Linked DNA regions of Homo sapiens. The protein of the gene in region 1 interacts with the protein of each later gene in a pairwise test. Each region holds a gene or a part of one and is shown on either strand. Other genes may lie near its edges. The genes, in order: ZNF614 and NFIX.

Evidence for each region.
Region 2: the proteins of ZNF614 (region 1) and NFIX interact in binary tests that used the Homo sapiens proteins (3 or more experiments, as listed by UniProt).

The regions. Positions count from the first base shown.
Region 1 is NC_000019.10:52,025,413-52,030,007, forward strand, and holds the start of ZNF614 (zinc finger protein 614), read right to left. Parts: upstream 2,968-4,595; 5' UTR 2,830-2,967; exon of another isoform or gene 1,700-2,829; intron 1,127-1,699; exon of another isoform or gene 987-1,126; intron 550-986; 5' UTR 334-549; coding exon 319-333; intron 1-318. UniProt on the Homo sapiens protein: May be involved in transcriptional regulation.
Region 2 is NC_000019.10:13,078,761-13,082,573, reverse strand, and holds part of NFIX (nuclear factor 1 X-type), read right to left. Parts: intron 895-3,813; coding exon 719-894; intron 1-718.

The DNA.
Region 1 (4,595 bases):
TGAGCTCTAGCAATTCTTCTCCCACCTTAGCCTCCCGAGTAGCTGGGATTACAGGTGTGCACCACCACACCCAGCTAATTTTTGTATTTTTTGTAGAGACGGGGTTTCACCATGTTGCCCAGGCTGGTCTTGAACTCCTGAGCTCAAGCGATCCAGAATCTACTTCTTAAGGCAGAATGAACCCCCACCTCTACTCCCAAAAGCAATGTAAGTTAATTTCTCCCTAGAACACAATTATCCCAGTATATACTTCCTTAAGTTCAACTGACTTCTTCAGGCCACCATAAATCTATCAAAAAATCAAAGGGAAAATATCACCTGGGTCTTGATCATTTTCTTCTGTGCTCAGAAAATAGTGGATAACATGGACTATACGTCTTTGTCTCTTCTGCATTTGCCATGAAGTTTTTGAAGTTTTCCTAGTCAGAAATATTAGTGTCCACTTAAAGTTGTCCCCAGAAATTATGATATCCAAGGCCAGCAACCTCCTTCTTCTTCCTTCATTGCTTCACTTGAGTTATTTTGCTTCTGGGAGCCAGGACCTGAGGACTGATAAACAAAATGGCTTTCAGTGTACATTAACCCTGGGTCCAGACATTGTCACTGCTGCTCTGCACTTACCTTAAATAAAAGACCCTAATATTTCTAACAGTTCCTTTATTTGCTGCCTCAGAGGTTTTCATGGTTCTAAATGTGTGAAATCTATGCCTTTCTTTTGTGAAGTAGAAGTGGCATGACTATTATAGAGAAGGTGGGAAAGCAGAACCAGCACAGCACAATGCCTCAGAGGCAGGTGTCTGGGGAAAAGAAAGAGAGATCAGACTGTTACTGTGTCTATGCAGAAAGAAGTAGACATAAGAGGCTCCATTTTGTTCTGTACTAAGAGAAATTCTTCTGCCTTGAGATGCTGTTAATCTGTAACCCTAGCTCCAACCCTATGCTAGCAGAGACATGTGCTGTGTTGACTCAAGGTTTAATGGATTTAGGGCTGTGCAGGATGTGCTTTGTTAAAAACGTGCTTGAAGGCAGTATGCTTGGTAAAAGTCATCACCATTCTCTAATCTCAACTACCCAGAGACACAATACACTGCGGAAGGCCGCGGGGACCTCTGCCTAGGAAAACCAGGTATTGTCCAAGGTTTCTCCCCATATGATAGCCTGAGATATGGCCTCGTGGGAAGGGAAAGACCTGACCGTCCCCTACCCCGACACCTGTAAAGGGTCTCTGCTGAGGAGGATCAGTAAAAGAGGAAGGCCTCTTTGCGGTTGAGATAAGAGAAAGGCATCTGTCTCCTCCTCGTCCCTGGGAATGGAATGTCTCCGTGTAAAACCCCATTGTCTGTTCTATTTACTGAGATAGGAGAAAACCGCCTTAGGGCTGGAGGTGAGACATGCTGGTGGCAATACTGCTCTTTATTGTACCGAAATGTTTGTGTGCGTGCACATCAAGGCACAGCACGTTTCCTTAAACTTATTTATGACACAGAGACCTTTGTTCACATGTTTTCCTGCTGACCCTCTCCCCACTATTACCTTATTGTCCTGCCACATCCCCCTCTCCGAGGTGGTAGAGATAGTGATCAATAAATACTGAGGGAACTCAGAGACCAGTGCCAGCGTGGGTCCTCCGTATGCTGAGTGCTGGTCTCCTGGGCCCACTTTTCTTTCTCTATACTTTGTCTCTTATTTCTTTTCTCAGTCTCTCATCCCACCTGACAAGAAACACCCACAGGTTGTGGAGGGGTGGCCCCCTTCAAGGTGAATTCTCAGACAGATCAATTTTAGGAAAGAGAACACATGGAAGGCTCCAAGAATGTCTTTAAAAACCACGTGTGCCCATGTACTGGTTCGAAAGTCTCTGTAAGCTCTTTGGGTATACATACCTCGTGTCAAGACCAATGTACTAAGCAAATCACAAGAACTGTCTCATTTCACATTATGCGCTAAAGGAGTAACTTTACCCAAGAGAGCTTTGTCCTTTGCCCACAGTTCCTATGAGGCAAACTCTAAGCCTTTGGAATACGCTGCTTGATAAAACTGTCTTTGGTTATCAGGGCAATTTAAGCCATGCCAAATTGTCTATCCTAATAATGTGATTTACTGTGGGAGACCTTGGACCACGTGGTATTAGTTTGATATCTGGAGGAGCTGGAGATTGAAGTCAGCCTCATAGGCAGTCAATTGTGTGTGTGTGTGTTAACTGATATCCAATAAAACTCTGGACACCAAGGCCTAGGTGAGTGGCAACAATGGTTACAATGGCTGGCAATAATAATATAAGGGTGTATATATAAGAATATGATAATTTAAAAACGTATGAAGCAAAACAGAATGAGAGAGGATTAGACAATTCAACAATAATAATTGAAGACTACATTACCCTACTTGCAATAATAAAGAAAACAAATAGAAACTCAGCAAGGATACCGAAAACTTGAACAACATTATCAACCAACTAGACTTAACGAACATTTAACACTGCACTCAACAGCAGTAAAATAAACATTTTTTTCAAGAGCACATGTTATATTCTTCAGGAAAGATAATATCCCATGTGATAGCCTGAGATAGGGCCTCATGGGAAGGGAAAGACCTGACCGTCCCCCAGCCCAACACCCGTAAAGGGTGACTCACAAGGGCCCCAGACCCAGACAGAGTCGGACTCGTCGCTGATTTCCTCAGACTCTTCATCCCTACAGCCAAAGGACCCGTCATTAACGCCCCGCTTCCTCAGCGACTGCGTTCAAATACAGCCCCAATCAGGACGCTCCACGCACCATCGGTACACAGACCCACAGGCCGCGAGTCCATGCCCAGAACTCGACTCACCCGAGCCCGAACCTCTCCAGACACCACTGGCAGCGACAAAACGCCGCATCCACGTCCGAAAACGCTTCCTATTCAGACGCGCTCCTGCGCGGACTCCGGGAAGCTGAGCGGTAAAGACCGTGAAGCGAGGCGAGGACCACGGAGCCTGCCCGGGATCGCGAGTTCAGACTGCGGGCGCCGCTCTATGAGGTCACAGGGCTGCGCCCATCGCAGCGTTTCTGACAGGAGCGGCCATAATGGCTGTGGGAATCACTCTTAGTCACCTCAGTGCCTTTCTCTCTTCGTTGCAAGGGACACTCAAGAGTCGGGTGCCCAGCCAAGGCCAACACGGCGCAGTGGCATTCTATTCAGCCTGCTGTGGAAAAAAGATGGCGGCGCCCTTTGTGCCCATTATAGCTGAGAGTGGAGCCTTAGCTGGAGCACCATGGGCACGGCCATCTTAGAGGAAGGCAGCAGCCGTACGGCAGAGAAGATGCTCATATCCAGGACAATTTGGAAAAATAAACAAGGTTTGAAGAAGTCACGGTGCTGGCCAGGAAGCGGTCACAGAGTTGCCAAAACCAGTGGTCACTGAAAGTGTTAGATTTGGGGATAGGGCGGGGGTTCTGGGCTGGGTAAGGCTTTTGTGGGTTAGATTAGACTCTGACTGAATGGACGAAGCCGAGAACAGGAGTGATGCTCCATTAAATGCTAATACCCACATGGGGCTTGCTATTAAAACCACTGCCAGTGGGGAAGGGGATGAGGAGGTGAAGGTGCAACTGTGTTAATATCTACATGTTTCCTTCCAGAAGTAAAGGAAGATGACAGTGGGGCACTTAAGAATATGAAATTATTAGAATGCGATCATCCTACTTTGCAATGTTTCCAGATTTTTTAAAAAGTCACACTTAAAAAATATTAGTTCTATTTTTGCAGATGTTGGCGTTGTAACTGTAGAAGATTTAAGTAAATATTGTATTTTTGGAAGGCAACCTAGAGCCAATTTAATTTTTTCGTTTTCTTTGACACAGCAATTCTAAAAGCTATCTAGGCAAATCTGTCTTAATATTAACCACAACTTTTGTAATTTACAAAAAAAGGGAATTACAATGAGAGATGAATACTTTGGTAAATTATGGAACATCTGCTGAACTGTAAGAGTATATATCAATTTAAAAGAATATGCTACAATTGTTTTATAAAAAAGAAAACTTTGTCAGAGGACAAAAAAATGATCTGCAGGATAGTATATATTTTATGGTCTTGTTATTGGAAGAAATCATAAACATCTTTTGGAAAATTGTGATTGGTTAAACAAGACATTTAGTTTGAATTAATATTGTTTGTGTTCATAGGTAGAGAATGCCATGTTTTTACTTGAAAAATATTCCCAATTTATACTTAATTTTACTATCTTTGTACCATAATCATGAATATATTATAAAACATGTTGATCTTAGAAAATAGGTATGATGATGTATAATAAGTTCATGGCATGATAAATGCAAAATAGGCTGTTTTCTTTCAGAAAATAAATATGCTCATGCATTTGAAAAATTCTGGAGAATATACTAACAATATTTGACTGTTCCGTACAATTATGGTGACTTAAAATTTCTTCATTTTACTTACGTTTTGTAATTTCTAGAGAATAAGAATTTCATGTTCGTATTTCTTGAGTGTTATAACATATTCCATCCAGGATTAAATTTCAGCCCCGTTCATCTGGAATGTTAATCTCTGGTAGGTAAGTTTAGCACCTGGTCCACAGGACTATGAGCAGC
Region 2 (3,813 bases), about 39 Mb from region 1:
CCCAGGGCTGAGGAGCAGCAGGGTTTCACTCTAGAACCAGGACCGTCCTGGGAACCCTTTGTTAAAAGTCCTGCCAGCAGGAGTCTCCGTGGCAGCTATGTGGATCGGGGCTTTCCCTTGACACAGTGCTCCTCACTAGGGATGGTCTTCCCCTCCTGGGCACACTGAAATCTGGAGACTTTTTTTTATTATCAAGACTGGGGAGGAGGAGGTGCTCCTGGCATCTAGCAGGTGGAGGCCAGGGATATTGCTCAACATCCTACAGAGCACTGGATGGTCTCACACAATAGTGAATAAACAGCCCCAAATGTCAACAGTGCTGATACTGGGGAAACCCTGGTCTAGAATCTAGCAAATCCTTGCAGCCCCGAGGTTTAAGAGGAGCGCTGGGAGGTCAGGGCCCAGATCCGGGTTGGATCATCATGAGTTCACTCCTGCTGAGGGGGCAAGGACCATGGGAAAGGCAAGGAGCCTGACTGAGCAAGGGGGCCCAGATGCTGCCCCCACCTCTCCGGACCATGATAGACAAGCCCTGGCATAATACACAGACCCCCGTCCCCAGACCCAGAAAATCGAGGCGTTTGGTACTACCAGCTCCCTGCTGCTCCAGCCCCAGGTGGGCTCCTGGCTTTTGGGCCCTCTCCCTGTGAGCCCTGAGACAGACAGATAGATGTGGAGATGAGGCTGTAGCCGGGCTCCTGGGGCCCTCTGGACTCACCTGTCCGGTGGCCTGGCCCGAGCCATCCGAGCACACAAACTGCACAAACTCCTTCAGTGAGTCCTGCCCGTGGTGGTGGTGGTAGCGGATGGTCGGGTGCGTGAAATACGGGCTCGACTGCTGGATGATGGACGTGGAGGGGAAGTGCAGGGCTGATGCTGTGGCCCGGGGGCTCCCTGCATGCACGTGGGCAGGGAAAAAAGGGCGTCAGGGCCAAGGAGGCAGCCAGTGGGAGGGACAGGAGAGGAGGGGAGCTGCCGGTCAGAGGGTCCTGAGGATCCTGAGCAGGTAAGGCAGCCGCCACAGGCACAAAAGTTAAGGCGGCACAAAAAAGTCAGTCATCAGGATCCATGATGTTTTAATGCAATACAAAAATAATAATAATAATAATAATCAAATAGGCAAACTAGGGTCCAAAGGCCAGCCATTTGTTTTTGTAAATAAAGTTTGATCACAACCAGCGCTGGGAGATTAGGATGAGGCAGATGAGGCAGGGTAGGATCTTGTCTTTATTTTATTTGGCTTTTTAAAAAAGTGTTATTATTATTATTTGAGACAGGGTCTCGCTCTGTCATCCAGACTGGAGTGCAGTGGCACAAACACGGATCACGGCAAGCAATCCTCCTGGGCTCATGCAATCCTCCCACCTCAGCCCCCCAAGTAACCAGCACTACAGGTGCACGCCACCAGGCCTGGTAGATTTTTGCTTTTTTTTTTTTCTAGAGATGAGATTTTGCCATATTGTCCTGGTTAATCTCAAACTCCTGGGCTCAAGTGATCTGCCTGCCTTGGCCTCCCAAAGTGCTGGGATTACAGGCATGAGCCACTGTGCCCAGCCTAAAGAATTTTTTTTTTTGAGACTGAGTCTCGCTCTCTCACCCAGGCTGGAGTGCAGTGGTGCGATCTCAGCTCACTGCAAGCTCTGCCTCCCGGGTTCACGCCATTCTCCTGCCTCAGCCTCCCGAGTAGCTGGGACTACAGGCGCCCACCACCACGCCCGGCTAATTTTTTGTATTTTTAGTAGAGACAGGGTTTCACCGTGTTAGCCAGAATGGTCTCGATCTCCTGACCTTGTGATCCGCCCACCTCAGCCTCCCAAAGTGCTGGGATTACAGGCGTGAGACACCGCGCCCAGCCAGTATCTGTTAAATAGAGACAGGATCTCGCCCTGTCATCCAGGCTGTAGTGCAGTGGCATGATCACAGCTCGCTGCAGCCTCGAACTCCTGGCCTCAAGCAGTCTTCCTGCCTTGGCCTCCCAAAGTACAGGGATTACAAGCATGAGCCACTGTGCCCAGCCTCAACATTTTAAACCATTTTAAACAAAGACATGGCTGAGTGCTGTGGCTCATACCTGTAATCCCAGTGCTTTGGGAGGCCAAGGTGGGAGGATCACTTGATCCAGGAGTTGGAGGTCAGCCTGGGAAACATAACAAGACCCCGTCTCTACAACAAACATTTAAAAATTAGCCAGGGTGGCACACAGGAGGGATCACTTGAGTCTGGGAGTTCAAGGCTTCAGTGAGCTATAATCGTGCCACTGCATTCAGCCTGAGTAATAGAGCAGGAAACTGTCTTTGAAAAAAGAAAAAGAAAAACAAACAAAAAAACTGGTGTTTGCTTACCATACCCTTTTTTTTGCAATAGTTTGGATTTTAAAACATATTCCATTAAAATATTATTTATCTTGATGACTGAGTTTTTGATACTTGCTGACACTCTGCACCTAAGGTGAGTGCCTCACTAGCCCTGCCTTAATTCAGGCCCTGGGTGGGAGACTGGGTGGGGGACAAGAGGAGGCAGAGGGTTCCCTGGGGCTCTGGATGAAGACAAAGCCAGCATCTGCTCAGGATGGCCGTCTGACATATGCACACACATCTCCTGAGTGCGAGCTGGTGTGCACCCAGCCACCGCCACCTAGGCGGTGTTCTCATGTGCTCAGCCTCATCACTCACACACGTGTCCTCACATACGCGTCCTTGCACACGCAATTCCCAACCCAGAGCAGGCCCCAGCTCTTCCTCCTCCCGTCTGTTTCCAATCAGCTCGCTCTTGCTCTCGGTTTCATTAGGGGGCTGAGGAAACTTGGCTTCTCTCTGGAGTTCATAAAAGCTGAGGTGGAGCCGGAGGAGCCAGGCCTGCGCCCTCCTGCTGCCTGTGTAGAGGGCCTGGGCTCCCCACCCCCACCTCGCGGCCACCACACCCTGCCCCAGCACCGGCTGCCTCTGGGCTCCCAGCCAGGAGGCCCCAAGGAGGAAGCCAGGAGGTAAACCTCCTCATTTTCTGTGTCCTACATACGAGCCCAGGAGATGGCAGGCGGACATAGGGCCATATCCAGAAAAAGTCCAGGCCTCTTGCTGCCAGGTGGGTGCCCAGAGAGGGAAGAAGAAAGTGAAGGAGTGACAGGGCTGAGGTCTCAGCTCCCACAGCCTCCTGCCTGATCCTATCTCCTCAGGGCGATCTAGGTGTTCTCATCCTGAGCACCTTCTCAACTGGGACACTGAAGTCAGAGAGCAGCCCCACGGCAGTGGGCAGTTCCTTTTCCTGGGGAGCAGCCCAGGTACCACCTGTCCCCTAGACCCAGCCCTTCCTTTCTAGAAAGCGGCAGGGAGGCCCAGACAAGGTAGCTACTTGCCGCAGGAGCCTGGGCTCCTTAGGAGTACTCTTCTCCATCCAGGCCCCACATCAACCTGGGCTCATGCTGGCAAAAATCCAGAGCCTGGGCTCAGCCAGGAGCTGGGAGAGAGGAGCCGGCAGGAAGGCAGAGCAGAAGGCTGTGCCTTCCCGCTCACAGCTGGCAGGACAAAAGGAGAACTGGGCCAGAGTTGGGGAGGACTCGGGACAGGCTTGTGTTGTATGTAGCACCCATGCACGTGAGGAGTGAGAAGTGGGAGGTTGCTCAGGAGCCAGGTGGGCAGCCCAGGGGCCCGGCCTGGTCCTCGATGAGGTGCTACGTGAAGCAGGGGCCGGCTCCCATGCCCACCCGCTGCTGCACCTTGGCCCACTTGGAGAGCGTGGGGCTGTCACTCGGGGTCAGCTCTGGCCCCTTCACCTGGCCAGCTGCCCCTAGATACTCAGCCACCTCCCCAACTGCCC